2 separate regions of the Homo sapiens genome follow, and region 2 is reported to be linked to region 1. The links are microRNA targets in miRTarBase. Many come from high-throughput screens and were not tested one by one. Region 1 holds a microRNA gene; the other region holds the end of a gene's coding sequence.
Evidence for each region. The annotated mature microRNA hsa-miR-3074-5p reads GUUCCUGCUGAACUGAGCCAG and lies in region 1 at 1,816-1,836, opposite strand. An mRNA with a match to its seed (bases 2 to 7 or 8) in the 3' UTR can be bound and repressed. Matches are read on the target gene's strand: a 7mer-m8 pairs with bases 2 to 8, a 7mer-A1 pairs with bases 2 to 7 and ends in A, and an 8mer does both.

Region 1 (4,150 bases):
ATGAAAACCATTTCTGTGTAACGTGTTTAAGTAGCTTATTTATCTGAAAGAACTCTAATAATGAAAAGAAATAAAAAGTTTTTCAGAAGCATGATCATATTCTTCCAGAAGAGTCAGGAACCATGTGTGCCAGGAAAGGGAAACGGGACTGAGCGTCTCGTAGCGAAACGCCTGCTGCAGACTTGACGCGGCTCCCCTCCAGGACGGGCTGGCGGCACACAGACTGTGCACTTACCTCACTGCCGGCCTCATAATAGTAATCAGTGTAAATGGTGTTTCTCTTTCGTTTTGTTATTTCGTGGCGTACGTGTTAAAGTGTGTGAAACTACAAGGCCAGCTAGTCCTTTCATCATTCCCTTTGGTGCAGGTTTTGGAGCAGCACCACAGGGCACACCCCTCGCCACTCTTTATGGGGAATTTTTGCCCAGGCAGGCAAAGGAGTCATCTTGGTCACAAGTCTCCCTTTTCCCCCTCCCCAGCATCTTCGATCCTGTCCCCACCCCTCCAGATGCATCCAGGGGTTGCAAGCCTGCCCCCCAACCAGTCCCCGTGAGGAACAGTGGCCGGGATTGTCCCAGGGCCCCTTCCAGCAGGGGGACCTCCTGACTTGAGAGTCCCCAAAGCCTTCCCAGGGCAGCTAGAATCTGCCTGGAGAGAAGGGATCTTGTCCCCAAGGGTTAGAGGCAGTAAACTAATAGCAAGGACAGCTGCCTTTAGCAATTGTGTGTGTCGCATGGCCGGTCCCTGCATTTTTCTTCAGTTCCAAAGCTGCACTGGCATTTTTATGGTCATCTCTGGAGTCCCTTTGATTCAAGAAATTATACCTCTAGGATGCCAACTAAACGAACAACAAACAGAAACTCCACCTGTTTGCTAGCATAACAGGCGTGAAGGCGGCAGTGTCGCCGGCGTCCTTCCGCGGAAGCCCAGTGTGTGCAGACAGCACGGGGTGGCGCTGCTCTCAGGTGCTCTGGCTGCTTGGGTTCCTGGCATGCTGATTTGTGACTTAAGATTAAAATCACATTGCCAGGGATTACCACGCAACCACGACCTTGGCTGCTCCTCCAGAAACCGTGGTCGCGCTCACTGCAGATTGGAGAACAGGTGCATCTCGTAGCTCTTCTTTGGAAACAAAAGAAGCCACCAGCTGAGGAAGATGCTCACCGGTCACCGTCCCTTTATTTATGCCCAGCGATGACCTCTCTAACAAGGTGCAGAGCTTAGCTGATTGGTGAACAGTGATTGGTTTCCGCTTTGTTCACAGTGGCTAAGTTCTGCACCTGAAGAGAAGGTGAGATGGGGACAGTTAAGTTGGAGCCGCTGGGGCAGAGGCCGTTGCTGACGGGCCGGCCGCTGCTGCACAGTCAGCTTGGGTGCGGAGCGCGATCCTGGAGGATGAGAGACCACTTGACCCCAAGGATGCACTGTCTCCTGCTGGGAATGCTAGCCATGTACTGAGTCCTTAAGTCTGTCCACAGAAACATGCACTAATCGGACATCTGTCTGAAAGGTCAAATGTATTGAAAGTTGCAAAAATTCTTCTTACAAAAAACTAAAACCAAATGCATCACCTAAGTCGTGTGAAATCATGTGGTAGCTCATGGCTGTGAGCGGGGCGGGGCGGGGCTTTCGGAGGAGCTCCTGTTGTTCTGGGCGCGGTGAACTCTCTCTTGTATTTGCAGTCCAGGCCTTCGCGTCTCCTGCGCCAGCAGACGGTGCCCACGGAGCTCCCAGCTGAGGCGCTGCTTCTCCGGGCTGTCGATTGGACCCGCCCTCCGGTGCCTACTGAGCTGATATCAGTTCTCATTTTACACACTGGCTCAGTTCAGCAGGAACAGGAGTCGAGCCCTTGAGCAAAAAGCCTTCGTGTCTGTAAGTGCCCGAGGCTCAGGAGAGCTGGGGCTCCCACTCGCGGCAGACAGGCCCGCGTCCACCCTGCGTCCACCCCGGCCCGGCGGCAGCACGGTGCCAGTCATCTGCATGTGCTCCTGCGGCGTGGGGGTTTGTAGACTTGGAAAACCCTGTTGGCAGAAAGTTAAGAGCTCCCAGGCCTGAAGGCAGGACACAGTGCCAGCAGGGGGCCGTTTGCCCCCATGTGTAAGGGAGGCAGGGCCCAGCTCTCCCACGGCGAGGTGAGCTGAGACTTTCTGAGAACAGTTAGAGTGGGTGCGTGTCTGAAATGGGTACTCCTAGCAGCTATTGTGTACGCAAAGCCTGAGTACAGCCTGCTGGTGTCATGGCCACGTGTGAGCAGGCCAGCGTCACACGGCTCGCTGTGACCCGTCCCGGAGACTGAAATGGGCCTGGGTCTTCTCCTTGTCCTGTGATTAAAGTCCTCTCTTGAAAGTGGAGAGCAAAGGCACACAGAGGTGCGCGCTCACAAGAATTCCTCCCGGTGACTGGGTAATCAATGTTACTGCTGTTTCCTTTGCAGGAAAGACCACAGCAAGATTCTTTCATTCGTCTCCTCCTAGCCTGGGGGACCAGGCTCGAACTGACCCTGGACATCAAAGGAGGGATTATGTGGCTGCTAAAGCCATCGGCCCACAGCCCTGTTCACATCTTGGTGCTTCTCTTTCCCAGAGGCTGGTCCCAGCCAGGCACACACAAAAGGCAGATTCTCGTAAACGCAGCCTCCCTCCCTGGAGGCTGCCTCCTGCCCTGGATCTGGAGTGGAGCTGCTCTGAGATTTTGAGTTCTTCTGCAGAGATGATTAAATATATCCAAGAGACATTGGAAAACCTGCTGAACATTTTACATTGGTCTGCTCAGCACATGGCTGGATGCGGATATTTCTATAATTCCAGAAAGTCACACAGCTCCTCTGTATGAGACCAGTGGGCGCCATTTAAAAGAACAGGATGAGAATCTAAGATATATTATTAATAAATGTAATGGATTTTTTTTTTGTATACGTGTTTGCTTCTAAATTTCATACTGTTTAAAAATAATAAAGGCCAGGTGCGGTGGCTCATGCCTATAATCCCAGCACTTTGGGAGGCCGAGGTGGGTGGATCACGAGGTCAGGAGATCGAGACCATCCTGGCTAACATGGTGAAACCCTGTCTCTACTAAAATACAAAAAATTAGGCGGGCGTGGTGGTGGGCACCTGTAATCCCAGCTACTCGGGAGACTGAGGCAGGAGAATCGCTTGAACCCAGGAGGTGGCAGTTGCAGTGAGCCGAGATTGCGCCACTGCACTCCAGCCTGGGCGACAGAGCAAGACTCCATCTCAAAAAAAAAAAAAAAAAAAAAAAAAAAGCACGTACAAGAAAAAGGTATTCTCCACATTCTGGTGTTCCCCCCCCACCTCACTAGTTTCTTTGTTGTTTTCAAGGTAGTGTTAGTTCTCTTAGAAGCCTGAAAACAAAAGTAATTTGGCTGCGCGTGGGGCACCCTCTTCCGATAAAATGGAGAGCCTGGGCATATTCAGGCATCGTGGGAGTCTGGTGGTATGATTTTTCTTTCTCCACAAGGTTTAGGGTATAGACAGAAGCTGGGCACTGAGCTTCCTTGGCACTGTCCATGGGGCAGAATGTTTGAAAATGCCTGGAGAAGGCTGTAGGAACGGGTGCAGCCATGGGCCCTGTGCCAAGTTGGGCTGAGCATGAGTGCACCTGAACACACCCACAGTCTCCTCTGCCTGGCTCCAGGGGGCAGCACAAATTCTGGCCTGTTTGGGGTGAAGTGGGGCTCTACCATGGATCTCATTAGAAGCTCTGGACTGGGAGGCCTTGGTCTCCAGAACTCTCTTTTCTTGTCCCAGTGACTGATTCCAGAACGTTCTTAGGATTTGCTCTCTGCTGTCACATGCCTTTGCGTGGGACTGTATAGCTGGCTGTGCCATCGTGGAGGATGGCTCAGAACTTGACTGTTATGTTTGAATAAATACACGACCGCGGCTTCCTGTGGAGATTTAGAATGAACGATGCTTTCTCTCTGTGTGCTGCTGCCTTTTTTTTTTCCTTCCTTTCTTTTTTTTGACAGTTTCACTCTTGTTGCGCAGGCTGGAATGCAATGGCACGATCTCTGTACACTGCAACCTCCGCCTCCCGGGTTCAAGCGATTCTCCTGCCCCAGCCTCCCGAGTAGCTGGGATTACAGGCTCCCGCCACCATGCCCAGCTAATTTTGTATTTTTAGTGGAGAT
Region 2 (4,000 bases), not on the chromosome of region 1:
GGGGTCTGTTATCAACAGACTCAGCCCCAACCTCGTTCAGGACAAGCTTGTGTGGTTCAGAAGGTAGATCACAGAGCAGGTTGTACCCATGCCTTTGCCAGCATAATGAAGTTGACTCTTTTGGGGTGGGTGTCAAAGCTCCTCTCATGTTCTGTTACATTAAGGTAAAAACTGAGGGCCCATAGCAAGGGCCCCTATCTAGACAAAACCTAATCATCTTATCTTGGACAAATTTCTCTGTTCTTTCTATAGCCTGTGGTAGACACAATGTGCCCATCAAAGATGTCAACACCCAAATGCCTGCAACCTTTGAATATATTATATAGGAAAAGGGACTTTACAGCTATAATTAAAATTATAGATTTTTAAAATAGGAAGATTACCCTGGATATCTGGATAGGTCCAATCTAACCACATGAGATCTTAAAAGCAGTGAACTCTTGCTAGGGCAAGAAAGATATGGCAGAAAGGGAATTCAGAGAGATTGAAAGCATAAGATTCATCTACCAATGCTGAAGAAGCCCACAAGGGAATTCAGAGAGACTGAAAGCATGAGATTCATCCACTAATGCTGAAGAGGGCCACACAGAAAGTATGAGAAGGAATGTGGGCAAATTCTAGAAACAAAGACTAGCCCACAGCTAACAGCTAGCAAGGAAATGGGGAACTCAGTCCTACAACTGCAAGGAACTGAAATCTACCTAATGAGGCTGAAAGAACTCTTATCTAGGGACTTCCCCTTACAGCCTCTAGCTAAGAGCCCAGCTCAGCTGACAATCTGATTACAGCCTTGTGAGGCTTTAAGCAGAGGACCCAGTTGAGCCATATTGTGCCTAGATTTCTGTGCCATGGAACTGTGAGATAATAAATGGGTGTTGTTTTAAGCTACTAAGTTTGTAGTAATTTGATCTAGCAGCAATAGAAAATTAATAAACTTTTTTTTAAAAAAAGCAGAATTTGCAAGCAAATGTGACTTTGAGCGTAATTCTTCTTCACTGCAAATATGTGATGTAGGAGTCTTTGAGTTATTTGCTTGAGAATAACAGTGATAAACTATACTCCTATCTGTGCTCCTCAGTATTTGGTTGCATTCATTGGAAGACTGAGGCTCTACTTAGGGGATTTTTTCCTCCAAGTCCTTCTAGAATACCCTGGAATGGAGAATGAATTTTAGGAGATCAGGACTGCAGCATGAAGATGAATTATCAAGCTACTGTACTAATCCAGCTGAGGGATGATAGGACAGGGTTAGCTGGTATGGAAGAGTCAGACTGGAGAAGGGGACATTGATGTTGATTCCTAATAGTTCTAGAATGGCTTACTAGGTGGATGGTGGGGTGGTATGCAGGAAGTAAATGGATATTGAAAACTGAAGCTCAGCTGATTCTCAAATTAGTCACTCCCATTTGGGAATTAACATGTAAGTTGATAAAATCATGTCAGTGGAGATTACCCAGGAGACACTTATGGATTTGTTTTAAAATATAAACAAAATATAAATATAACAAAATATAATAAAATATAACAAAATATAAACAAAATATAAATAAAATATAAACAAAAATATAAAACATAAAAGGAGGAATGAGGAAGCATTACATATAGCGACTAATAGGAGATTCTGTTGCTTGGGAAAGGAGAGAGAAAAAAGAAGAGGCTTAGAAAAGATGAGAAAGATGTTGGCTAAGTTAGATTTGATACATCGCAAATGAACTAAAAAAAAGTGGTAAATAGTCTCTTTTTATATTAGTCTATTTTCACACTGCTATAAAGAACTACCTGAGACTGGGTAATTTATGAAGAAAAGAGGTTTAATTGACTCACAGTTCTGCATGGCTGGGGAGGCCTCAGGAAATGTACAATTATGGTAGAAAGCAAAGAAGAAGCAAGGACCTTCTTCATAATACAGCAGGAGGTGGGGAGGAAGTGCCACACTTTTAAACCATCAGATCTCATGAGAACTCACTTACCATCATGAGAACAGCATGGGGGCAATCACTCCCATGATCCAATCACCTCCCACCAAGACCCTCCCTCGACATGTGGGAATTACAATTTGAGAGGAGATTTGGGTGAGGACACAGAGCCAAATCACCTCACCCTTAGATGGAAAAAAATAAGTAGGGGGAAGGCATGAAGCTAGAAAAAGTTCTTGTTACCTACCAGGGAACAGTACCAGTCCAGGACAGCTAGATTCCTGTCTTTGTGAATAATGATGATGGTGGAATTGGCTACAGAAGACAGAGGCACAGGAAAAAGTGATAGTGTTCAACCAGCCATTTGCACATAGGAAGCTTCACAAGCTGGGCGTCTGTAATTTGGGGAATATTAATATTGTGTTCCTCTTGAGTATATTATTCATTCAGCAAAGATTTAGCTGTTTACAAAATCATTTACAGAGAAATTGGAGACTCTTTCAATCCCCTATTTCTGTGAAAACATTGCAGCTGTACTAAGACTGAAAAATCCTAGTTAGCTTATACAGTAGCTACCTATGCATTCAACAGTTTCCTCACGAAAAGCTCACAATGACTATCCTTGATACCCTTTGCTGATCTGAATCTGTGAAAGTATTTGACAGTTGCACAAAGCAGCAGGAAGAGAAAATAAGTTGCCCACATGCAAGAACCTAAGAGGGCTTCCTGCTGAACCACCAGTTGTGGAGAAAGCAGCCAACCAGGGGAAGAACCATTCAAGGCAGAATGTTCCTCATTTTTCCAGCTGATTTAGATGGACTAAAGAATTAAAATTCAACCCATTCCAAAGCACCAAATAATAACTTTATGCTGTGGAACTAGACACTATACTTTCACTCTCTTTCCTAATGTCTTTGTTTTTGGCTAAGAGTAAAAATAGCTGTCAAGGTTCCCTCTCTCAAGCTCTGTTAACACACCTAGTCCAAAGGCGCATGTGTGTCATGTCTCTAATATATTTTATTGCTGCCTTTTAAAATTCCCCTTGAGACGCTGGCCCAATATTGTTGCATTCAACCACATTTCTACCACAAGGATTAAAAAGAACTTAAGTATAATTTTATTCTATTCTGCATCAATGCCATACACACACAAAAAAATGTTTGGATCACTTAATAAGTTATAACATTCTATGTTTTAACATTAATAACAAGGACATAAATGATCATTTCCTGAGTTAACAGTGCAAGGTAAAATTTAATCTGTATTGCTAATAAGACATTTTACAGCATAGAAACATGATCGAAGTGATCATTTACTTTATCATGTCATAAAACACAAGTGCTTATTGTAGAACAGTGATATAATTTAAATGGCAAGGAAATTTGTGATTCATAACAAAGAATCCTGTATGTATTTGTTGCCATGATTAACTTTCCAGGTCAAATATCAGTAGTAAAATAAGTTGTGGTACAAAAGAAAGCCAAGAAGTTACCTGTACTGAAGGAACATTTGATTTCATTTAAGAAACTGAAGGCTGGATTCTAGTTAACCTTTTGTTATGTACAAAAATGTTCTCTTAAAAAACCCTAAGCAATCACAAATTTAGATAAACTAGTTGAATAAAGGACAATGACAGCTCTTCATTATGCTGTAAAACTATGGATCTCATTTTTGGAAAAGTTGAGATCATGCAGCAACCTGAAAAACAAATAAAAAGCACATGTTTCTTAGGGAAAATGCTTTAAAATGAAGAAATAAGAGCAGTTTACCACCATAATCATGATACTTTTTCATTTTCCCCATTCACTATGTAGTTTTTTTTAAATAAAAAAACACTATCACCTCTTAAAAAATTAGTGATTAGTAACTCCTAAATATCATGAAATATCTAAGCAGTGCTCAAATTTTCAACTAGCTCATAAATGTCATAATTTTAAAAAATAGTTTCAATCAATAGCCAATTAAAATTTACTCATTATGATTGGCTGATAAGTCTTTTAGGCATCCTTTGATCTGTAAGATCCCCCAGACCCCCACTCCATCCTGCAATTTATTTGTTGACAAAAATCAGATTTTTATTTGTT

Region 2: the mRNA of CYB5R4 is a reported target of hsa-miR-3074-5p. Seed matches in the 3' UTR shown: 7mer-A1 at 3,142-3,148 and 7mer-m8 at 2,640-2,646.

Annotation. Positions count from the first base shown.
Region 1 is chr9:95,084,248-95,088,397 of GRCh38, forward strand. It overlaps MIR3074 (microRNA 3074), which reads right to left and starts at 1,847; the gene lies at 1,767-1,847. AOPEP (aminopeptidase O (putative)) reads left to right here. Exons shown (of 17, transcript NM_001193329.3): 17 at 2,435-2,912. It overlaps MIR23B (microRNA 23b), which reads left to right and starts at 961; the gene lies at 961-1,057. MIR27B (microRNA 27b) reads left to right here and starts at 1,198; the gene lies at 1,198-1,294. It also overlaps MIR24-1.
Region 2 is chr6:83,959,438-83,963,437 of GRCh38, reverse strand. CYB5R4 (cytochrome b5 reductase 4) reads right to left here. Exons shown (of 16, transcript NM_016230.4): 16 at 1-3,614. The coding sequence ends at 3,560. RIPPLY2-CYB5R4 (RIPPLY2-CYB5R4 readthrough) reads right to left here. Exons shown (of 18, transcript NR_174604.1): 18 at 1-3,614. Among named protein-coding and RNA genes, the nearest start is that of LINC02857, 59 kb to the left of the region's middle.